Regions from separate parts of the Homo sapiens genome. Here all the other regions are linked to region 3. The links come from fine-mapping of genetic effects on gene expression. A gene starts in region 3. Each other region holds a variant in brackets. All regions are shown on one strand. Distances are between the middles of the regions.

Evidence for each region.
Region 1: its variant is fine-mapped to the expression of PCSK2 in thyroid (GTEx, PIP above 0.99).
Region 2: its variant is fine-mapped to the expression of PCSK2 in lung (TOPMed, PIP above 0.99).

Annotation. Positions count from the first base shown.
Region 1 is chr20:17,039,973-17,048,157 of GRCh38, forward strand. No RefSeq gene overlaps it. Among named protein-coding and RNA genes, the nearest start is that of PCSK2, 180 kb to the right of the region's middle. The variant G/A (reference allele first, on the strand shown) is at 3,490.
Region 2 is chr20:16,802,644-16,810,828 of GRCh38, forward strand. No RefSeq gene overlaps it. Among named protein-coding and RNA genes, the nearest start is that of OTOR, 58 kb to the left of the region's middle. The variant G/A (reference allele first, on the strand shown) is at 4,672.
Region 3 is chr20:17,223,614-17,231,798 of GRCh38, forward strand. It overlaps PCSK2 (proprotein convertase subtilisin/kexin type 2), which reads left to right and starts at 3,427. Exons shown (of 12, transcript NM_002594.5): 1 at 3,427-3,869. The coding sequence starts at 3,693.

The sequences.
Region 1 (8,185 bases), 180 kb before region 3:
TTGATTAACCAAGGAATATACTTTTATAAAACACATGTTTCCACATTTTGAAAGCAAAGGGACATGATTTGAGGATAAGTGTTCAAAAGATTATGACAAAAACAATACTATAGTGAGATTCTAAATGATTTCAATTTTCCCCTTTATTTTAAACTATTGGATATGTGGAAATAGGATGCATCAAAGATTGGCCACATGGAAAAGGGAAAAATGGAGTGATGGGGCAGAACACATTAGGTGCCAGCAACGCAATGAAACTCAATAGGCATTAAAAACAAATGCAAAACTTGGTCCACTGATCAAGCTATAAGCCTTGTTTCAATGTGCTTTTTATTAAAATGAAAATCTTCCTTTACATCAATGGAACCATAGATTAATTCCTGTCTTTATTCTTGTGGATTAAGGAGCTACCTGCTCAGGATTTTAAAACAAGATCACAAAAAACAGTTTCCTTTGAAAAATTTTTGTTGGAGAACATTTTCTTGGTGTTAAATTTAGAGCCTTATCAGTGGCAGAATAGGTGAAAATGACCCCTAGGCTCACAGCACATAATCAGTGTAGGTTCCAGGAGAAGACAATGAGTTGGTACCCTCCTTAGAGGTCCAGAAAGAGGTCACTGGCTCATTTCCTGAGAGGGGAAAGTCTGATACCTGCAAAAGACTACCTACAAGGCTTGGCTCAGAAGCAGGATTCCTGTTTCTGAAATGGTTAAGTGTTCAGAATCACCATACTCTCAGGAATACTGCTACCACTACCGCAGCTACCATTTAAGCTGTTACCGTATGCTGAATACTCTAACGACTTTCGTACACAAACTTGTTATACCTTCCCAAAAGCCAGGGAAAGATATTCTATTGACCTCTATAAGGCAAAGAAAGTGAGCCATGGAAGGGTTTGATTGCATGTGTAAGATCATACAACTCCCATAAAAGGGTTTGAACTCAGAACTTACTTTAAAAACTTTGAATGGAGGATTGCTCAAAGAATGTACTTGGAAAACAACGTAAGAGTCCAGTTTCCCGACCTGAAATACAGGGTGAATAGGAGCACCAACAAGGTAACTTAATGCTAAATGGATGAGATCTAGAATCCTGAAATCCCTACCAACTCAGAAGAAGGTCAGTCTCCGACCCTAGGGAATTTGTAAGGATTAGATCTTAGTTGTAATGGTTAAAATACATCATAGGGAAACCTGAGGTCATTCTTGAAACTATAAGCCTGTGCCTGTGTTCTCCCAAAAGAGTTGACGTGCCAGGCACAGTTTTCCTAATCAAAATCCCCTTCATCTTAGCTGAGTTTAAAATGATACTTCTTGGTCACTCAAACCACTAAAAAGAAACTAAAACAGGCCAAATTTGTCCTGAAGTCCTCTCCAAGTAACAAATCTTAGAGTGAAACTTCAGAAAGCAAAGAAAGGAAGCCCCTTTGAGTTGATAGTATAGAGGATACCCCCTGCAGATTCTAGTCATTTCTATAACATGCAAGGCTCAGTACAGAGAGGCTCAAAGAAAGCTCAGGTAAAGGCAACGCTCATCTCTCTCTCCTTTTCTAAGTCTTGCCTGGATTCTGTATAAGCAGATAAGCTGATCTCACTCAAAGTGGAAGTCAGTGCTTATTAACGGCACACAGTGAGAGAAGTACAAAAACTGAGAGTGTTTTGACATTTTTATGGAAATTTGCCATTGCCATGTGTTCTGGTTAACAATTGCTGTTTAACAAACATCCAAAATAAAACAAAGTGGTCTAAAACAAAAATGTATTATCACATTTCATGGTTATGTGGGTTGATTGGGCTCAGCTGGGCATTTCTCATGTGATGTCTGTCTTGTGTTTGCTTTTAGAAGGCAGCTGGAGCTGGAGTTAACTAACGACTCAGTTGAACAAGGTCTCCAGAATGGTTCCTTCATTCACATACTGGGCACCTCTTCTGAATGGCTAGAACAGCTGGAGGCTGGGTGGGCATGTGTCTCCATGCAGCCTCTCCATTTGGATAGGTTGGGCTTCCTCTCACCGTGGTGGTCTCAGAATAGTCCTACCTCTTAACTGGTAGGTGGCTTCTCCTAGAGAACACACAGCAAGAGACCAGGGCTGGGAACTGCAAGACTTCTGGTGAACTAGCCTGGAAGTCACACAGCATCACTTCTACCACATTCTGTTGCTCACACCCACAGGCACAGCCCAGATGTAAGAGGAAGAAGGGGACATATAGGGATAGGAATACCAGAAAGTGTTCTTCATCAGGGTTGTCTTTGGAAACTAGCTACCACAACATGATATCCAAGTGCATGATGACCAAACTCATCTTGTTGAGCTCTGCATAAACTGGTTCAGGAGTACAACTCACATGGCAATTTGCACATGACACGTGCTGCCTACTGGTCATATAGATTGGATTCAAGCATTACCACAAACAGTTTGAGAACTCTAACCTCTTAATCTTTGCTTCTGCCCAATCTGTCCTTATTTCTACAACTACACTCAACATTGGTTTTCAACCTCAGTATATTCCTTTGATTCTCACATATTAAATTAACTTTTTCTTCAGCAACTCCCTGGAAGCAGTTTTTTTTTTCTAGCCACATACATTTGATCTCAAGCTCTCCTCCTGCTCAACCCTCTTCTTACTTTGGCTCTGCTGTATTTTTCTTCAACCAAGCCTTGCTTTATAGCATGAGCAGCTCAGTACTACCAAACAACACTTGCAGACTTATGTGATGTTCACTTTTGCCTCATGAAATTTACATTATAAAAAAGAAAACCTTTACAGATTGACAAGAGTAAAGAAGCAGGCTTCTTTAATATCATTAATGTCATTTTTCTCTCTTGTCAGGGATTTGGAGATGCAGAGATTTCCATTAAAAAATTATTTTGAAAATGTCAGAACACCCAATAGCAGAAGAGTAAAAACACCTTTCCCCATTATCCATATTCAGCAGTCCTCAAGACAATTGATTTTTAAGAAAACCCGTTGATTTATTAGAAGACTCCATAGTCAATTTCTGTTGGGTTGGAGGAGAGAGCACATTCAAAAGTTCTGAACTATTCTGGCCTTATTCAAGGACAGAAATTTCATCTCTTGAACTTTTGGGTAATTTATCTTTCATCATATCTGGTTACCGCACAGCAAAATGTTTTGAGAAACACACCCCTAGAAAGGAGCAAAATTCCTTCCCAAGGATCAATTCAGCAGATAGAGTCCTGAATATGGGTTTTTATAAAGGTGTTAATGTAATGGCGTTGTCAGGGATGGTCAGTGTTGCAGAGAACAACTTCTGGCATCCTCAGATAGGACACACCAGAATCAGTAGAAGCATGGCTTAATCTCACACTGGCTGTACTAGTTGTATTTCTAGATGTAGACAGATTTGGTAGAGTTAAACAAAAAAATACTTGAAATGTGAAACTATTATAGATCCTCTTGCACAGTGAAATGACTTTGCGTAAATGATTCTTAGATCAAAACATGTTTAAACAGTCTTGTTTTCTAAG[G/A]CAAACATTCGCGTTGTAGTGCATAAAGAGAACACTTGGGGAGAACACAATGTTGCTCTTCAAATATTTCAGAGTCTGTCCTACAGGAAAGGAATTACACTTACCCACTCTTATTCCTGAGGTCAGAACTAGGACAAGTGGGTAGATATTGCGGGGAGGTGGACTTCACATCAACTTAACAAAACTATATTTAAAATTAACCTTTTTTTCAAAGTCGAGAGAGCTTCCATGTAAGATAGTGAGCTTCCAGTCATGGACAAAGTTAAGCACACATTGGGTAACTGCCTTCGGGGGAGGCTGAAGAGGGATTTTTATAATACAAGCGTTTATTTTTAATTATAATACCTGTGTGTGTCCAGGTTATGTACATGTAATTGTGTATTCATGGCAAACTTTGAAAACTAGAATTTTTGGTAGTCCCAGAAGAGATTAAAAGACTCAAAACAGCTTTAAACACATCGGTGATAATTATAGTACTATCATCACTGTGGCACAGTAATATCCCAAAAGCTCTATAAAAGTTAGACACAGTTTGTATGTTACTCTCTTCACTTTTCTTCTAGTACTGTGTTGAACTTTTGATTGTCACAAGAGACTCTCGTCTGTATTCACAAGCAAATTTTTAGCATGTTGTGGTATTTTAGTAAAAGCTTCATTTATCTCTAGTGTTGGGCTGATGCTACTCCATACCTTGTCAAAAACTCAGTTGATCTTAACTTTCCATCAGTGGCATTGCTATAATTATAATTTAAAATTTTTGGCAGTACACATGAAGGTTTCCAGTACACTGGTATGCCTTACCACACCAGTTGCTATGGAAGGTACATTGGGCCTGGTCATTTCTAAGGGTTTGAAGTTACTTCTCTCACTTTGTGTTACATTTGTTTTTAGAAAGTAAACTAGTAATGAGCAAATAGTACCAACATCTTATGAAAGGTGGGAGATTTTTCTCCTGCAAAGATAGGTTTATTTTAAAATTAACAAAGGGAATCCAAGAAAGCCTTCTAATTTCTTTCCTTTTTCTTCCCCCAGAGGCCTAGAATGTTATTGAGTGCCAGAATCTCAAACACATGTTTTACAAATAAAATAACATCTGTACATAAACCATTAATCATTATATTAATCATTACATGATTTGCCTTGTTTTGAAGGGTAGACGGTACAGCTTTCATGAGCAAATAGTCATAAAAGAATCATATTTGCTATGCCCATGCCACTCTCTTGAGTTGAATGCACGTGTCCTTAGAAAACTGCAGAGAATTAGCCCATTGTATTTGATGCTTTTTATGTGACTGCCTGACAAGTTTAATTTTTTTCTAATGACAGAAGAGATAAATCATCAGTGCATAAAATTTGAAAAAAATACAGATAAATGCAAAAAGGAATCACTACTAACCCAGATAATTTTTGTTAACATGTTAGTAAATTTTCTTAGGTATTGCAGCTAAATTTCCCTGGGACTGTAGGAATAGATCACATGAAGGAAAAAGAGTCACTAATAAGTCAGAAAGCCAAATCTTCTGCATATATGATCACTGTTACTATGGAAACCAACACTTTCCTGGATGTGACAAGCAAGCATGCTGAGGAAATGTGAGCTGATAGCATCATAGTAGGAAGCTGGGAGGAGGAGGCCTGTCCCTGTTGGAAAGCTGTGCCCGAAATTAGGACACCAACAGGAACATGCAGTGCACATTGGTGTCACCACCAGGCTAAAAGAACCTCCAAGGCCTGGACGTGACAGGAGACAAACCTGTCTGACCTCTCACAATACCCAAGCCCTAGCGGCAACCCAACCACAGGGGACTCTTCACTGTTGTATCTCAGCACCCAGAGCAAGGCATGGCAACAGACAGGCAGGGAAGATGCTCCCCAAGTATCTGTCAAATGTATGAGCAAAAAAGTTATGGTGCTCAGCACGGAGGTGGTCTTTCTCCACACCTTTTCGTTCACTCATAAATGAGCCATAGTGAGTATGTGTTTGTTATCATAAATACAAAAGACAATATAACAAGCTGGTTTTGTTTTTCCTAAAAACATATCTCCTTGGCTCCAGGAAAGCCCCTAGAACCAGGAACTTTGAGCACAGTGGAATTTTGCACTGAGATGCCAGTTAGAGAATCACTAGGCATGGATAACCTTCCTACTGGAAAAGTAATTTAATCATAGCATGCTCTGGCTTTGGGCTATTTGCTGTAATCCGAATAGAGAAAGCATTTTAGAAACTGAGTGACAGTCTCCTATATTTATCCTGGATCCCTCTTTCTATGAAGCTGCAGGTAAAACTACTAACTACAATTGTAATAAGACCCTCCGTGTGGTCTCTGTCACTGACAAATACAAAATTTCTATTCGAAGAGAAGAGAATGAGTTTTTACATATCCCTCCAATTTTCAAAAACTACAGCATCTCTTATAGTCTTTTTTCTCAGTTTTTTCTCCAGTTGAAGGTGATCTGTTGATGAAGTCCAGATAACAAGGCCCACAATTTTACCATAATGTTCCAAAACAAGTGAAACAACTCTTTTTAAAAACAATTTATTCATTAATTTTTATTGTCCTCAGCTTTATTAAGGTATAGCTGACAAAAGTTGTATATATTTACAGTATAGAGTATGATGTTTTCATATATGTATACATTGTGAAATGATTAAATCAAGTTATATACTAATTATTTTATAAATTAGAGCAATGAGTTTCCTAGAGATTAAGAAAATGCAGTTAATAGGAAAATGTGAGCTACTGATAAAGACAGTAACCTGAATAAAACATATTATGGTCAGATCTATAAGCTTTCATGGCTGGTTATTAGGAATTTGGGAGCCACCAGTTCTACGTTCAAGATGAGATCCAGCCTCACTTGTCTTACTTCATCTGTACTGTGGGAGTTACAGCTCTTTTTCTTCTCATTGAAAGGATCCACCCATGGTCTTGACAATTATTTTCAAGGTTCTCCCAGTCATCTACAGGTCAGGATTTACAAGTAAGATTCTCCTTGTGCATTTTCCAAAGCAGTAAATAAAATTCTAACTCTAACTGACCCTTCTCCATGATTATGTGGATCTGAATAAAACACTCACTGTAGTCAGCATCCATGTGTATTTGAGTCCCTGTTGAAGGGGAATGGCCCATTTCATGTTTTATACTATATCCGGAGCAGACATCACAATGTCACATGACAACGTTATGATCCAGATGTCAATTATATTTAAATACAGCCCTTTGAACTCAACAATTCTCTTTATTAGGAAGTTAATAATTTTGTGGGGTTTTTTTTCTGTTCTTCTCGCATGGTAGGCAGAATTCTAAGATAGCCTCCAATATTCCTGATTCCTGGTGTAAACAACTTGTATAATCTCCCCAGCCTTGAGTGTGAGCAGAACCTGTGAGTATGGTAAAATATTACTCCTATAAATAGATATATTCTATGGCAAATGTGGAGAAATTTAGAATATATAACTAAGGTCACTAATCAATTGACTTTGGGTTAATCAAAGGAAAATCATCCAGGATAAACCAGATTTCATCAGCTGATCTCTTAAAAGCAAGGTTAGAGGTCAGAGACAGGAAATCAGGAGACCTGCTTTTGCTGGCCTTAAATAAGATGAAATCTGCCATAAGTTCTATAGGCAAAAGGAACTGAATTCAGTTAACTTAAATGATCTTGGAAGAAGATCCTACACATGGCAGTCTTGACTGACACTGCAGTTTTTTGAGACCTAACTGGCGGATTCAGCTAAGCTGTGCCTGGACTCCTGACCCATGGAAATTGTGAAATCATAAATGGGTCTTGTTTTAAGCCACTGAATTTGTAGTAATTTGTTAAACAGCAATAGAACAGCCTCCTCTCTCTCTTTTTTTTTTTTTTTTTTTGAGATGGAGTCTCGCTCTGTCGCCCAGGCTGGAGTGCAGAGGCGCTGCAAGCTCTGCCTCCCAGGTTCACGCCATTCTCCCGCCTCAGCCTCCCGAGTAGCTGGGACTACAGGCGCCAACCACCACGCCATGCTAATTTTTTTGAATTTTTAGTAGAGACGGGGTTTCACCATGTTAGCCAGGATGGTCTCGATCTCATGACCTCGTGATCCGCCCACCTCAGCCTCCCAAAGTGCTGGTATCGCAGGCGTGAGCCACCGTGCCTGGCCAATGTCTCCTCTCTTACACATGTGCACGAGAACATACAGACACACACACCAATGTCTAAGCTGGCCCCTGGCCCCTTTTATTTTTAAGGAAACGTTTGTTTGGTAGGGAACTTTTCCTTAGAAGATTCCCTAAACTTCCCATGTCTACTAGGGAAAGGCTCTCTCTCTCTCCTGCTGTAGGCACCTCTGTCCCAGTCGCAACTATGAGCAGGGTGCACCTCTGTTCTCTGTGATGTCTTAGGGCTCTAGACACACACCTGGGAGCCAATGTGAGCCAAAGAGGTCCCCTGCAGGAAACACAAAAGAGGATGATAAGGAATGCAGGGTTGCACTGGAGTTTAGTCTTTTATGTCTTCCTCCTTGGAATCCAGGCTGCTCTCAGAACTTCCAGATGCTCGCCCTTGTTTAGACCTTATATACGTGTCTGACCCTTCTGCCTCAGTCTGACACCTGGAAGATTTGGTTGATAAAACTGCCTAACCCTGATGTCCTTGTTTGTTTTTCTGCCATTGCTCCAGGGCCCTGCCCTTTGACTAAGTTTGTGACTGTATTGCC
Region 2 (8,185 bases), 420 kb before region 3:
GCCATGGAGCTGTCTTAAACATGATGTCATTTCCCTAGTATCATGAAATATTATATAATATTATTTATGTAGCTTGTTCTCTGGGAAATCTGTTCTGAGAAATTGCGTCATCTCCAAAACGTAGTGCCCAACCACCTGGAATATAATTATGATTATTAGCGGCTAAATATTGTGAAGTCTCTGTTCCTAATTGTCCAGAACCATTAGCAATGCCTTAGAATGTGTATATTTCCCTCCCATATTGATGTCCCCGCACTTGAAAATAATCAATCCCTTCTAATTTACAGTTGCTGTGAAATATGAAATGTAATGATATCACTACCAACTGATATCAGTTCTGGAGCACAGTCATATTCTTTTCTGATTTTTCTTTCTTTGTTTCCTGTTCTTCATGTGAATCCTTTTTGCTGTGCTGATTTGGGCTCACTAATTTTTCCTCTGGATTTTCATTTCTCTGCCTTCTTCAAGGGAATCCCTGTGCCTTCTGCTGATTTCATATCTCCAGCCTTACTCTGGCTAACTCACACTCACTCCCCTCCTACCCACTGCCAGCCGAGAAAGGGTGGTGGCTCTTTCTTCATCTGCAGAAGAGGAATCTCATGTGTGTATGGGAGAGGAAAGTTCAATGCCCTGGTATGGGTCATTCATCAAATTGTCTTCTATCCTGCCTTCCAGAGATCTAGGTAAACTAGCTTGGCCATCAATGCCATGGCTCATCAATGTCCAAGACCCAATCTAAAAGATTGGCTAAGAATTTTGGGAGGCTTATGTTCACAGGGCCTTCTCAGTCTCCAGGCTTCTTATACTTCCAGTCTCTGCTTTGCCCTAGGATGCGTGAAACAACACCCCCTTTGAATTTTGCCTGAAGTCCACTGGCTGAAAGCATTGATGAGCATTGTGCACTTTGTGGGGTCATTTCAGGGGAGTTCAGAAGACAGCAATAGAATCAATTTTGCAATGGAATGGCAAGCAATACTATTTTCCTTTGTCGTCCCTCCCCTCACCTAGTCCCAGCCGCCTTTTGCTTTGCTGGCTGTTTTTATCCATCCTCCCTTGGCTCTCATCTCTTCTCTCATCTCTCCTCATCTTCCTGGATCGGTAAGTCCTCCCTTCTGCAGCTTGGCACCAGCAGGCAGAAGGCTGCAGAAGGGAGGGCAAAAGACTTACTGATCCAGCCTTCAGCAGGCATTTTCTTTTGGAAATTGATATGCTAATTCTAATATTATATGGCGATGCCAAAGACCTGGAACAGCCAGAACACTGAAAAAAGAACAACAAATTTGGAGGGCCAACACTCTCTGATTCCAAGAATTATTATAAATCTGGGTGATCTTTAGAAAACTCTGATGCCCAAGCCACACTGCAGAACCATTAAATTTCCATCTGTAAGTGTGGGGCCCAGCAGCAGGAGTTTTTAAAGCTCCCCGGATTATTCCTCTGTGCAGCCCAAATTTAAAGCTGCCCCAAGCCGGCGTATTTCATTAGTCCTCTAGAGGGCGCCCCAAGCTCGCAACTGACCGAGGAATGGCGCTTGCAACTAAATAGATGGTCACCAGACCTTCTGAAGCTGACTTTATCAGACAATCAGATAATGTGGGGAAAGAAGGAAGAATAAAGAATAGAAACAGCCGAGCGCGGTGGCTTATGCCTGTAGTCCAGCAGTTTGGGAGACTGAGGTGAGAGGATCGCTCGAGGTCAGGAATTCAAGACCAGTTTGGGCAACATAGCAAGACCCTGTTTCTACAAAAAAAAAAAAATTATCTGTGCATGGTGGCATGAGCCTGTAGTCTTAACTGCTAGGAAGGCTGAGGTGGGAGGATTGCTTGAGCCCAGGAGGTCGAGGCTGCAGTTAGCTATGATTCTGCCACTGCATTCCAGCCTGGGCCACAGAGTGAGACTCTGTCTCTAAATATATATATATATAAAATATTTGTATAAAATATATTACTATTATTTTAATATTTTATTTAATATTATTTACTATTTATATGTATTATATATATGTATGACTGATGAACACTACCACTGGCAGTATTATTTTTTTAGTTACATTAAGTATTTGTCATGTAGGGGAATTGAAAACAGTTTAACCGCTTTTGATTCTGTATCAATGGCATCCTTGTATGAAAAGAAACACTAATTCTAAATTAATCTTTGTGGCTAATGGGACTTTAGATTTAGCCTGGCCGTTGGAACCTCATCAGTCTTGGCTCTGGTTTAATCTTCTAAGCAAGCACTTCCACGGTCCTACATGTCCCTTTTGTTTCAGCCGTGCTGGTCTAATCACCTTTTTCCAAACTTGAGGTCCTACTGCCCCCCTAGGTTAAGTGGCACCTCCCTAGGCTGACTTCGACATTCCCCAGCCCTGTCACAGCTCTGGTCTGGATGCTGATTAGGAACTTGTTAACATCTTCCTGGCTCATCGATACCCCCTGTAATTTTGAATTGTTTTATGCCTTGACCGATCAACTAGAGTGTATACTTTGTGAGTCCCAGGACCTCATCTTTAATAATCATGAGTAGTACTTGCATATAGATGGTTGATCCATATTTGCTTGATGAAAATATTTGTTCTGGTTTGATGAGCTTAAAGTGAGTTTGAGAAAAGGGTCCAGTTTTACCATTTTCTCCCTAGGTCTTAGCATCCTGCCTGGAACAGAGAAAGCACTTAACACACCATTGTTGACTGAGATGTATGTGTCCATGTTCAGTACCTACTTGCACAGGAATGTGATTTTCCTTGAGCCTATTCCTTTAGGCTGAATCTTGCTCCCCCTCCCTCTCCTCCTCCTGGCCCTCCCACTTCTCATTTGCTTTTGCGTTCAGCTCTCTTAAAGGAACTACTCTGAATACATAGTATTTCCTCCCTTTATGCTGTGGATTGCCTTCCCTCCCTGCTTCTCCCCTCTTATCCTCCCCATCTTTCCCTTGTCTTTCTTATACATGTGTTTTTTGTTTTTTAAATTAATACATTAAATAAGATTGAGGTAGTGAGGAGTTAAGTAATATTTTAGATATTTGCAACAACTCTAATGCATCTGCATATATCTGTGGTTTTATTGGTGACAAAATCATGGGAATGGCCAGTACTGCTGTGGTTTATCAACCTACACTCAAATTGAACAAAATGTTACATTTCAGTAGAGTTTAGTGAAAATAAAAATGTGCTTCTCCCTCATGAATTCTCTTAATTCTGTTCAGAAACCCATGGTGGCAGGAGAGGTTTGTGATTCCGCAGGTTAAGAACCTCTTTTCTACAAAAATATGACAAACACAAGATTTATATTTAATGGTCAAATGAGTTCCTTTTCTTTCCTTGTTCCCTCCCTCCCTTCCTTCCTTCCTTCTTTCCTTCCTCCCTTCCTCTTTCTATTAAAACCATTTAAATTTTCAGAAAAGTTTCTAAGTTGCTATCTTTAAGTGCAAATTTCTATGGGAAACACCAGAGACTGCTCTCAGTAGTTCTCAAACTTAAGTGTGCATCAGAATCACCTTCAGAGCTTGTTAAACTTCAGATAACAGTTCTCCACTCCCAGCGCTTTGATGCAGCAGGAGCCTGAGAATCTGCATGTCTGACACGTTCCGGTAATGCTGATGTTACTGGTGTGGGATGCCTCTTTGAGAACCACTCCCTTTAAACCTTCAAACTCTCTCACACAGAGCCTGACATTCCGATGTTCTGGTGGTTTGAGTTGCAAGTGACCATCTTGGAAGGAGCATTTGCTGTAGTCAGGGTGGAGCAAGAAGCACCACTGGTGTGTGATCAGGAGGCGACAGGACTGTGGGAGACAAGCTTGGGGCAGACCCCGTGGGCACTGGAGGCACAGCTGATGTGGCAGATGACCAGGGTGTTTTAACCCGCACCCCTGGTCCTGCTGAAAGCATCCCTGTAAGCTTTATAAAATCAATCAAGGAAGAAGGGAACAACGATAAACCAAGCTTGCAGCACACTCAGCACTAATCAGTAGGTCAGCTTGCCTTCTGCCCGGCTTCCTCGTAGTTGTTTTCCTGTTGTCCTAGAATCATGTAAACCCTATCATAAGATTTTAGCTCCTCTTGCCGGGGGCGGTGGCTCACGCCTGTAATCCCAGCACTTTGGGAGGCCAAGGCGGGCAGATCACGAGGTCAGGAGATAGAGACCATCCTGACTAACATGGTGAAACCTGTCTCTATTAAAAATACAAAAATTAGCCGGACGTGGTGGCGGGCACCTGTAGTCCCAGCACTGGGGAAGCTGAGGCAGGAGAATGGCGTGAACCCCGGAGGTGGAGCTTGCAGTGAGCTGACATCATGCCATTGCACTCCAGCCTGGGAAAAAAAAAAAAGATTTTCGCTCCTCTTAACTGCTCTATAGATAACAACAAAAGGTTAAGTTTTCTATTTGAGATATTCTTTCAGGTCCTGCAAACTCGTGAAACTACTGACGCCAATGAATCTGAAGGACCCCACGAGGAGCTGACTCACCAAAGAATGTAGTTTCCACATCCTGATTATTTCACTCCTGTTATCACAACCAAACAGCAACCCCAGTTTTCTAGGCCCTTGCCCCCATAATCCCCTTAAAAACCCCAGCCAAGACCTCCATGGGGAGATGGGTTTGAGGGCCCCCTCCCGTCCCCTGGCCTGGCCTCCCTGCAATCACTGAACTCTTTCTCTGCTGCCATCCCTGCT[G/A]TATTGGGCTGTTATGGCACAGCAAGCATCCGTGCCTGCCGATTCTGTAACACCACCTGAGTTTGCCAGTGCCTGTGGCAGTCAGTCCTCAGCATGCTGACATTTTTCAGCATGTGGGGATTTTCCCCTGCACCCCCAGAGGGTGAAATGACACCCCTTGGGGCAGCAGCTGCCAACCCATAGGGTTTGTGGCGATATTCCCCAGCCTTCCAGTTCTGGGTGCAGTCCACACCCTTCCACAGAGCTGGCTTGAGACTCTGTTGCCCATAGCAGTCATCACTCATTAATCTTGCTTCAGTGGCCATTTCCACCCTCCCTGCCTCATTCTCTCCTCTTTCTCTTCCCTCCTGCTTCCTGGAATCACCTTCCAAATAAACCTACTTGTTCCCAAGTGCTTGCCTCAGGAACTGCCTTTCAGGAAACCCAGTCGAAGATGTGTGTTCACATCCTAGCCTGCCACTTCCCTTCTGGGTGACCCTGGGCAATGAAATAAATCTCTTGAGCCCCATTTCCTTGCAGTGCCATAGGACAGCACTTCCATCTCCCAGAGTTATTATGGAGACAGACTGAAATAATATTCAAGAAGAATCCTGGGCTAGTTCCTGGCCCTGCAGTGTAGGTGCTCAGGAGATATTAGTTCCCTCCACCCCTGAGGTTGGTTGCTTTCTGAGAGGAAGAGGGAAGAAGGCAGAGGAAGAAATTAATTTGCTAGATCCATGAAACATGCAGGCAAGGGGTTTGCCTTAGGCACAGTGAGACGGATGAGTGGGCAGATCAAGTCTTCATCCCCAAGAATGCAGCTCTTACTCTTGGAGAGTTCTACTGACTCTAAGTAAAGATGTTCCTGGTGGCCATGGATGCTGTGAGCCATCCTGCTTCTGTTCTTGGATTTACCAATCTTCACCTGCAACACCTCCTCCACAGAATCTATCTGATTTCGGCAGTTGGGTTTTGGATCGAGGGGACTACCTCATTAGCTATATGACAATATTCCTCTTGCCCTTTTCCCTCCATCTCATTTCAGGAAGTGGTTTTGTCTTTTTATTACTTTTAAAAGTTTACAGCAGAAACATTAAAGAGATGGTTGGTGTTCATTGATTAGTTTGAATATGGGGCTCAATTTATTTATGGTTTCATTCTGTAAAATAGGAAGAGAAGTAGAAATGCCTTTGAACTAATTTCAGAATTCTTTGCTCAGCAAACCTTGTCATTCCCAGGCAATAACACAACGTTGCAACAGAATCCAAATGAGAGACACTGATGGGGAGGGGAGATCAATATAGGTTTTCTCTCATTTCTCGACTCACTTTGTTGAGTTTCCTGCAGGCTCTGTCTGTGGAAATACATTTCTAAGTACATTTGCTGCAGGCAGATACATCTAAGGGGCAGAAATAGAGCAAGACGGAGGTAGTAGATATACGAAGAAAAGATGAAATGCAAGAGAAACCAAAGCAAATACAAATTTAGAGTGACAAATTAATTCTTTTGGTACTTAGAAATGATTTTAAAAGTCAGCTTTTAGAAATTCATATTCAAAAGAAAGCATCCTTTGGAAACAATTTTACATGTAATTCGAAGCTGGGAACTGTGGCCTCTGAAGCTGGTCTTCTCCAGCATTCTATCCCACCACTCTCACTCAGCCAAAAGAGCTGGCACAAAGCCGGGCTGCTCATCTTTCCAGCTCCTGGCAGAGCAGTGGAGGATGACAATGGATCACGGAGATCAGGGCCCATTTAAAACAGACAAATAGAATTTGAGATGCAGACCACTAAAAGCTCAAGAGCTGAGGTGAATCAATTCTCCCTTTGATTGGTCATGGCAAGCTGTTTCCTTAACCACAGTAGACTACGGGCTACTTGTGTCCAGAATCATATTTGACACATTGTTATTTTTTGCATAGTACCACTGGGGCTTTGAAAAAGCTTTTTTCTTTTTTTTTTTTGCAAATAGTTTTAACATTCAGATTTTATTGCATGACTCTTTGGTCTTGCATTGTGTGTGTGCACACACGTGCATGCATGTGCATGTGTGTAAGTAAGGTGTCATATATCAAATGCATGCATGTGTGCATGTGTACACACACACAGTATTGGGGTGGAGAGAGAGAGAAATCCTAAACACAGAGCTCAGAAATTTGCATTTAATTCAGCTGGTTAAAGGAGTCACTGAAAGTTTGTGAACAGCAGACTGATAAAGTCAACATTTCCCTTGAAGAAATTTATACTGGTGAAGTAAGGATCAATTGTCTAAGAACTGGTTATGCTGGAGGTTGGTGATTAGTAACAGAAAGAATAGTTTGGAAGTTCTTGAAAATCGGATGGATAAGAGATAAGAAGAAATAACCCAGCAATACCAGCAATAATAACAGACATGAAGTAATGTATGTGAGAGACATTTAAGAAGTGGGATGTTCATGATGTGGCAATTCCATGCGGAAGGGAACGAAAGAAGGAGCCACAGAAATCTCAGAAATGCAATGTATCTGTATTCATCTCTGGGTCAGGACCTCATTAAAAGACAACCCCACCCAGTTATTCCTAATGTTCGATAGAATTTCCAGAGGAAATTCTGCTGCCTTTTCTGATGGCTGTGTCTTCCAGCCACTGCTTTCCTAATATTCTTCCAACTGTCTAACCTGAGCATTCTCACATCCAATAGAACTTCTTCCTTATACGCAATTGGTTTGAGGATTACAAAATTATTTCATAAAGAAGGCAGCCTTTTAATATTGAGTATATTCTGTTTAATAGGGAATTTGGTTTCACTTGGAAGTTCAGCTGAATCATCTCAGAGAGAGAAGATGGCCTCCTCATCTTTAGGATGAAATAAAAGTACTTTAGAACACACAGAAAACCTGAACTCTGGGCCCTCAGGCTCTCCTGGGATGGCAGGACCCAAGAAGAGAAGAGGGTGTCAGTGTGGATGCCTTTGATGGCTGGACATTAATTACTGTGGTTTCTGGAAGCAGTGGGTCCTCAGCAGTCCAGCCTGTGGTCAGTGGGGAAGACACTTGTGAGGAATGGCCTTGTGGTTTTCCTGAGCCAGACTCCTTTCTTATTTTCTTGATGTCATATAAATCAGCTCTGGGTTTTTTATGATCTAATAGAGGGGGCGGGGGAGCCTCAGTTAAGGTCTGATATTGGATATCTCATTGTCTTTGGTGAGCAGAAGCTGGGTGCTCAGCTTAATTTGTTTTAAGGAAAAAAAAACGGAGTGATTCATCTACCAAATATTGTGAACCACAAATACCTGTTTCAGTGATTAAGATGTAGGGCTCTGTACTTTTATTCCGCTGGTTATTCAGAGGTGTCTTCTAGAGCTAATTTAATTAGATTTACCTTGCTGTGAAACTCTCGATGTCAGGGACTTGCTGATGCTGGAGTGGAAATTCACCACTGTTAGTATTGTCAGTGGCCTGGAAAATGTAAGATAGGTTGTGGGTTATTTTTTTGGCCCTTGTTAAAGGTGTATGTGCCTTCAGGATAAGTTCTTTATGAGGCTCACCCGTGATCAT
Region 3 (8,185 bases):
TCACGTATGTCTTTATCAGCAATGTGAAAACAAACTAATACAACAGTACAATATGACAGTAGAGAATTGTTCCTACCTGATTAATGTACCATTACTGCATTTAAAATGTTTGCAATGAATGCAGCAAAAATGGCAAAGCCCAACCTGATTTTTAACAAGGCTGTATTTTAAATTGTGATTTTCAGTGGTATATACCCTATTTCTCTCCAGATTACACATCCCACACAATTGAAGAGAAATCAACAGAAAAATTAGATCTTTCTCCAGTAGTCCAAAGAATATTCAAAGGTTTGGGGGACTCTCCTACGGCTGCTTCTGGCTTGCTCTGTACCCCCAGTGGTAGGTTTTCCTTGGCATGATGCTCTATGAATCCAAAGTTCTCCTTTTAGAAGTACATCTAAATGTGAGTATCCCAATCATGCCTCAGGTGGTTTTGGTTTTTTAAAAAATCACCCAAGGTCTCTTGATTTCTAGTATTAAGCCATAAAATGGGAGAGTTCTAGTCTTGTTTTGCAGGACAACATCTTCAAAGAGACTCTGGGGGCCTGTGGCACATCTGAGCCAGAACCAAACACCCGACGTCATTGTTACAGATACAAAAGTAAATAAATGAAAAGAAGCTCCAGGTATTGGTGATTTTTATATCTCGTGCTGTCAATCTGTTTGTGTCAGTTATTATTTTTTCAAGTACACAAAACTGATAAATATGAGACCATTTGGGGGAGGTTACACAAAAATAAGTATGCCTGTTGGCCACAATATGTTATTAAATAGTATTGTGGTCCTCAGCATTTCTCAAACTATTGATGATGCTTCCTACATTACAGCGTATGTTTTCACAACTCTTTTGAAATTATAGACTTTGGCTCTGAGGTATCTAATCCAACAGTCTCTTTTCACAGATAGAAAGATAGAGACTTTGAGAGGTGCAATATGTTGGCCCACAGCCAAGTGGTATACATACCTAGTACTAGCAGAGCCTGCAATAGGGTCCCTGGCAACAGGCTTCTAGGTCTATCCTCAAAATGTGCTGCTGCCATTCTCTCTACTGTCCACCTTGACTATTGTTATTGGAAAAAGGAGTTTGAGAAATAGTTGTCTAAAAGAGCAATTTGTGTGCACACATGGGTGTGTATTAGCATTTCAAATAACAATGTATCAATAGATATCCAAGGGATAAATACATTTCCTCTTCCACTTGCTTACTACATTGTTGTGTATTGAAAATTTAGTATTTGAATAACCAAAAAAATTATCTTTCCATTTGCTATTCTGTCCTGACAATATTATGATGAGCTGTATTTTATGTAAACCACTAAAGAGGACTTATTTTAATTAGTCATTCAGGTTTTATATCATTTCTGGCCAATTTTACACAGTTTTAGTTATTTAAAATGTAGCTATATGAGATTCAACATTTACCAGCATTTCATATTTGGAAACTATTTAAGAAATGAAGTGGCCAGGCGCAGTGGCTCACGCCTGTAATCCCAGCACTTTGGGAGGCCAAGGCGGGTGGATCACAAGGTCAGGAGATAGAGACCATACTGACTAACACGGTGAAACATGAAAACCTTGTGTTATAATCAAACGGATGGACTATGAGGGGGTAAGCTGTTAAACAATAGAGTAATAGAAAGGGGGAACAAAGGCAGAAATGAGCCTCTGAGCAGTAGTGAGCTGAGGGGCCCAGAGTTGATCTGTTTCCCTTTATTAATACTTTCACCGTGTTAATACTTTTCCAGAAACCTTGCCTCCACCATGGCCCTAAGTCCTAACAGATAGCTTAATTTTCTTAGAGGAATTCAAATAACAATAATAAATAATGTCACATAGACTTCTAATGTTTTAATAAAAACCTTCAGCAACGCCCACATTTTTACGTGACAATTTTTTAAAGGGCTATGAGGGAGCCAACTATGTCAGCAAACAGACATGCTCTGAAGACAGGGTGGTCCATGGCATTCAAAGTGTATTCATTTCTACCGATGGTGCTTTTCTTGCATAGGTTCTGACTTGTGTAGATTTGGACTTCAAGCTAAAATAAAAAGAGAGGAATATGTGTATACATGAGAATGTGTGTGTAACGTGTCGATGGTATAAATAGTCTCTTCCTCTCTCTCTGAATTGCATGCACTTAAGCCCCTAAGAAAAGATCTCTTACCTCTTATCTAAGTAAAGCAGAATTTTGAGCTTTGAAGCTAAATGATACAATGAGATCAGTGTAAATACTCTTTAACACAACAATATTTGAGTAGCTTTGAAACAGTCGTCCTCATTTCGTTACATACAGAACGTTCGTGCTTCCTCCCTCTCAGGCAAGAAGCGGAGTCCGTCGTCAGCAGTTAGCAGAGTCCAGTGCGAGTGCACGTTTCTTAACCGGATAACTTAGTTGCCCCTGCCCCCCGTCGCTGCGCCCGAATTCGCCTCCAGTAGAAGACGTTCAGCGGGCGACTTGGCCCGGCGCCTGGGATCGGTGGCTATGCGTTCCCCAACTAGCACCCTCGCTGTCCTTGTGCAGTGGAACGTCCCCAGGTCTGAGAATGCACCTCCCGCCGTGTCCACCCCGGCCGCGTCTCTCCTGAAGGCAGATCTTGGAGGTGCAGCCAGGACTCCTAGAGGAGCCTCCTCCAGTCACCATCGCGGGTGGGGCGAGCCGGGTCTCCTGCTGGGCTTCCCAGCCGCTTCGCTCCGGACCTGCCTGGAGCCTACAAAAAACAAGGGCTCGTCCTTGCACTCTCGCCCCCCATGGATCACCCCTAGAAGGTGCTTTCCCCAACCCTCCTGGTGCCAAGGAGAGCAAACCTCCCCGGGGATTTGCCCAAAGTGGTGGGAGGAGGGTTAATATTTGCTTTGTTATTCGGATAAGGGGAGGCAAGTATGCCTTGGGTGTGTGTGTGTGTGTTTGAGAGAGAGAGAAAGAGAGAGAGAGAGAGAGAGAGGTGTTTTTGCAGCGGGAAACAAGCAGGAAGAGGCACAGAGGCCGGCGCCCCTGCTCCCCTCGGGGCCTCTGAGAGCGGCACACACCGTAATTCCCTTCCCAGAGCCTACAGATTCCCACAAACAATGACATCACTCCGCCGCCGCTGGCCTGATTACAGCTGGGGGGATTTTCCTGGGCGCGCGGCGGGCCAGGCTGAGATGGGGGAGCTCTCCGGTGCTGAAAGGGGCGGGGGCGCGGGCTCGCTGCGCTGCGCTGCGCTGCGCTGCGCCCCCAGAAGGCGGAGGCGGCCGGGCCGGGCCGGGCCGGGGGTGGGCGGGGGCGGGCCCGGGGCGGCCCAGGGCGGGGCCCGCCGCTTCCCCCGCCCTCATTGGCCGCTGGCGGACTCACGTCACCCGAGCTGGTGCTCTCCCCCAGCCCCTAGGGAATTGGAGCTGAGGAGGAGCTGAAAATGCAGATTTAGCATCAAGCACAGACCTACACTCGCTCTTTCTCTCCGGTACACACAGCTCCCCACATTCGCACCCCTGCCCGCGCGCCGGGCCGCCTGACTGCACGGCTTCCCCTCCAGCCAGATGCTGGAGAACACACACTGATTCGCTGCTTTCCAAGACCCTGTTCAGTCTCTTTCTCTATACAAAGATTTTTTTAAAAACTATATATAAGAATTCTTTATTTGCACCCTCCCTCCGAGTCCCCTGCTCCGCCAGCCTGCGCGCCTCCTAGCACCACTTTTCACTCCCAAAGAAGGATGAAGGGTGGTTGTGTCTCCCAGTGGAAGGCGGCCGCCGGGTTCCTCTTCTGTGTCATGGTTTTTGCATCTGCTGAGCGACCGGTCTTCACGAATCATTTTCTTGTGGAGTTGCATAAAGGGGGAGAGGACAAAGCTCGCCAAGTTGCAGCAGAACACGGCTTTGGAGTCCGAAAGGTAAGCTCTCCCATGCATTTCGCATGTTGTTTCAAAACGGGGGGACGGGGGGGCAGCCCTGCGCAATCTCATTGCAGATTTGCAAGTTTTCTCTCTTTCTCATGCGATGCAGATATTCTGCCATGGGCTCTTTAACACGATATTGCCTCCGGTGATCTTTCACCGGTTATGTAATTAAAATGTCCTTCATCTGTACTAGTAAGGTCATCAAAATAATTTACTGCTCTTTGACTTGATGGCGAAAATAGGATAACACCTTTCACAGGATGCCATGCTCCGGGGATGCTGTCCGAGGTACCAAGTTCTCGAGGCTGCCTGGGGATGGAGGGATGAAGCCCTGAACAGCTAAGCCTGGCGTTGGCTACTTGGCCAGGGAAGTCTCCCCCACCCCCATCCCCCGGAGAAAGAATAGTTTCCTACAGACGAGGCTGGACGTTTGGACACTGCAATTCACCTCGGTGTTTCTCCCACCCCGCGCCGGGAGGACTTCCCTCCCAGGGACTTCGGTCCCTGCTCCTCTCCGGGAACAACGGCTTCCTGACTCTAGATTTGGAAAGAAACTGGTCTCTAAAATCGGGGCGGAACTTCTGCGCCCTCACCCCCGCCCACGACCGCCCACCCCTGGAGCGCACTTCTGGTTGGCTCCCTAGTTCTCAACTCCCGGCTACAGGAGCTGGAGAGGTGGATTTTGAGGGGGATTCCCTACGGAGAAGTCGAGGTGTCCTCTCCTGATGCGTGGGCGGCCAGCCTGGCTTTCCCACTAGAGCGTGGGGATCCCCATTCCAAGAAGTTGCCAGAGTTCGACAGTTTGAGCAGATAGGTGAGCCTCCCAGCTTTGGACACCTTGGATCTCCTTTGGAGACTCCAGGGTACTCATCCTGGGAGGACAGAGAGAAGGGCGCTGGGTGGGGGCTGTGGCTGACCTGCGTGTCTCTCCTGCAAAAGATGTATCAGGGTTCTCCAGTGTCCTTAGGGGACCTGGCGCAGGCTGGGGTGGAGTGTGGGTGCAGAGAGAAGGTGGGGCGAGGGGAACCCAAAGGACAGAGATGTGGCTACCAGAGGGCTGGGTGGAGGTCCCTGAGATTTTAGGCTCCATCTCGCTCCTGATCCCAGGAAGAGAGAGGAGTGAGATGAGCGGTGGGTGCTTTTGGTTATTGGTTTTGCCTTGAAGGGCCGCGCAGACCGAAGCTCTTATTAGTCTCTTCTGTCCTGACTTCCCAAGCCTCCCGCCTCTCTCCCAGCCACCGCCAGGGCTCCTCCAGGTGTGGGGGCCTCTCCCTCCTCCTAAGGGCGTAGGCAGTACCGGAATTTCGACCCCAGAAGGGTCTGGCGACGAGTTTGACAGAGGTCTGGGAAGAGGCTCTGGGTCCGCCGGTGGCGCGCGGGCGGGTCTTGCGGAAAGGAACTTGTTGCTCTGGAAAGCGTGGGTGGAGCAGGGGAAAGAAGGCGCCGGCGGAGGGAGCACCCCGCTGTGGTTTTGGCCCGTGGCCTGCCGGCTGTTTTGAGAGACACCAACACAATAAAGAAGCCGACCTTCCTTCTTCACTCCCCCCCACCCCAAACTTGGCAAGACCCAGGACCCAAACGCCATTATAAAATATAATAGTGATTATTATTAGTTATACGGAAGCTTACGTGCTGGAGTCCTTACATAGATTTTTACTTAATCTTCTCAACATCTCTGAGGAGGCTACTATCATTATTGAGCCTATGGCCCCGTTGAGGAAATTGGTTCAGAAAAGGGTGCGAGATAAAAACAGGCAAGGGCTTCAATCCAGATCTTTCAGAAGTGAACCCATGCTCTTTACTCCTTAGTACCCACCCAAGCAAGCTAGGTGCTTTCAGGGGATGTGGGGCATTGAGATAAGTTGAAAAGGGATTTTAATTCTTGAGTGTGATCTTGCTGCAGAAACCTGTGGCTCCCTCCCCCTCCCCCACACCTTTTCATGGGTGCGGGGGAGTGGGAGGGAGCCATAGGTTTCTGAAAACCATTGTTCTCAGTGGTTTTCTCTTCTCTTTGCTGCCCCCTTTGAAAATGTGCCCTTAGGATCAGAGATCAGATAACTAGGCCTCTTTGTCCTTCATTCTTTCTTGGAGAGGAGCACACTGATTTTGCATCACAACCTGAAACCTGCAGTTCCCATCTGAGAGACCTCTCTCCTTACTTCTCCATAACCTCTCAGGTAGTACCCCACAACCAAATCCAGTGATTTTTTTTCCCCTTTTACACGTTTAAGTAACAGGGACTGCCTGGTGCAACATCTGCCTAGAATAAACCTCCTTTTGGATCCATGTCTTGTCCATTCTTCAAGACCTAAATTCAAACCTTTCCTGATGCTACAGACCACAGTGAGCTTTCCCTCCTCCAAATTTTTATGCGACTGATAGGCAAACACTGCACTACATAAGCTAATAAATGCCATCACTTTTCCTCATTATTTCAGGTATATAAGTAAATATGGGTTCAGTTGTTGTATTTCTACTTAAAAGGTAAATATTCAGGGATGATACCTCCTATATTTCTCATTTCCTCCCTGTAACCAGCACATTACTGTTTTGCCAGCCTTGAAGGAAACTTCCTTGTCTGTATTTATTATCCCAGGTTTCCCAGACACCGTCCTATCTTGCTTTCATCATACTGTTTTGTACTTTTGCCAACATTTGTTATTGTGCATCTTAGAGGCCCTTATGTCCTTCTCCTTCCTTGCTCTGATGCTTAGCATGCTTCCCAACTCCCTACTGCTCCCTGCTCCGAGGCTCAGTGTCAGACACAAAAGATTCTCAGTGGTTATTTATTCATCCATATGAAAGGTCAGCAATGGAGGCTAGAAGAACATGCTTTCTTATTAAATTATCTCATTCTAAGCTCACAAATCTATGAGAGAAATTACTGGCATCAGCTGTAATTCTCAGATGAAAACCTTAAGGCCTTGAGAAGTTAAGTATCTGCTTATATCTGAGAAGTAAAAGAACTCAGACTTAAAACCAAATTTGCTTAACTGAAAAATAATTGCTTTTCTACATCATGCTGCCTCCAGGAAGCCTTCCCTGACTGCCAAGAACTCTTCCCTTGAGACACAATTTTAGAGCTCTGCTATTTTCCCTTTTCTTTTTACTTTTATTATATTTATCATTTATTTTCTATTAACACATGAACATGTCATTAGCTAATGGGTACGTGTATTTATGTCTTCAGGTAGACTATAAATCTTCCAAGAGGAGAAATGACATACTATATCTTTATATAGTCTCCATATCTAGCATGGTGGCCTGTATATGAATATTTAATTGTTTGTCAATTATTTGATTGATTCTTATAAGACCATGAACAAACATTTGTTTTCTCTCTAAAATGAAATAAAAGCACCTATAACTTTACCTCTGAAAAGGTTATGGAGATTAAAGCTTTCTATTTTATCATGACCTGGCCCTGGCCCAAAGACCTATGTCTATCAGAAAAGATACTTAAGTCTAGGAGAGTGAATGAGTTTACAGTAATGACAAAAGCATTATTCCAAAGAGTGCCTTAAAATTCTCAAAATGCTACTAATTTTAATTGATTTGAAACAGAAAACAAAAATTATTTATTGAAGCAACCTGTTGAAGATTAACCAAAAATCAAGTGAGAGTTAGGGTTTAAAAAGAACCTGATATTATCCTAGGGGTTTCATTGTATTATGGTGTGTTTTATGTTTTATCCACAGAGGACAGATGCTGAAATGATTACACAAGTAAAATCATGTGACCATTTTTATAATGTGTGAGAATTTTTTAATTTTGAAAACAACCTAATAATCATTATGCTGCCAGGTAGTAAAAAATTAATAAATTTCTGGTCGCTTCACTTTTATTAAAGTATAATTTAGGAAAGAACACAGCTTAGGGAATTTTCACAAACTGAGCACACATGTGTAACCAGCACCCAAATCAAGAAATAAAATATTACCAGTATCCCTAAGTCCTTTTCTCACTCACTTGCTTTGTTTTCAGGTTTTAGCTATTATAAATATAGCTTTTGTGGATATTAAAGTCTACGTATTTTGGCAAACACATATATGGCCTTCTACAGGGAATCCTAGAAATGGAATTGTTGAGTAAAAGGATATGCATGCATACAGCTTTATAAGACCATCAGTTTTCTATTGCTGTGTATCACTAAAAAACTTAGTGGCCTAAAACCACACAAGTTTGTTATTTCACAGTTTTCATGGGTAAGGAGTCTGGCACATTTTAGTTGGGTCCTCTGCTCGAGTCTTCACAGGCTGAAATCAAGGTATAGGCTGCTGGGTCCCATCTAGAGGCATGACCAAGAAACA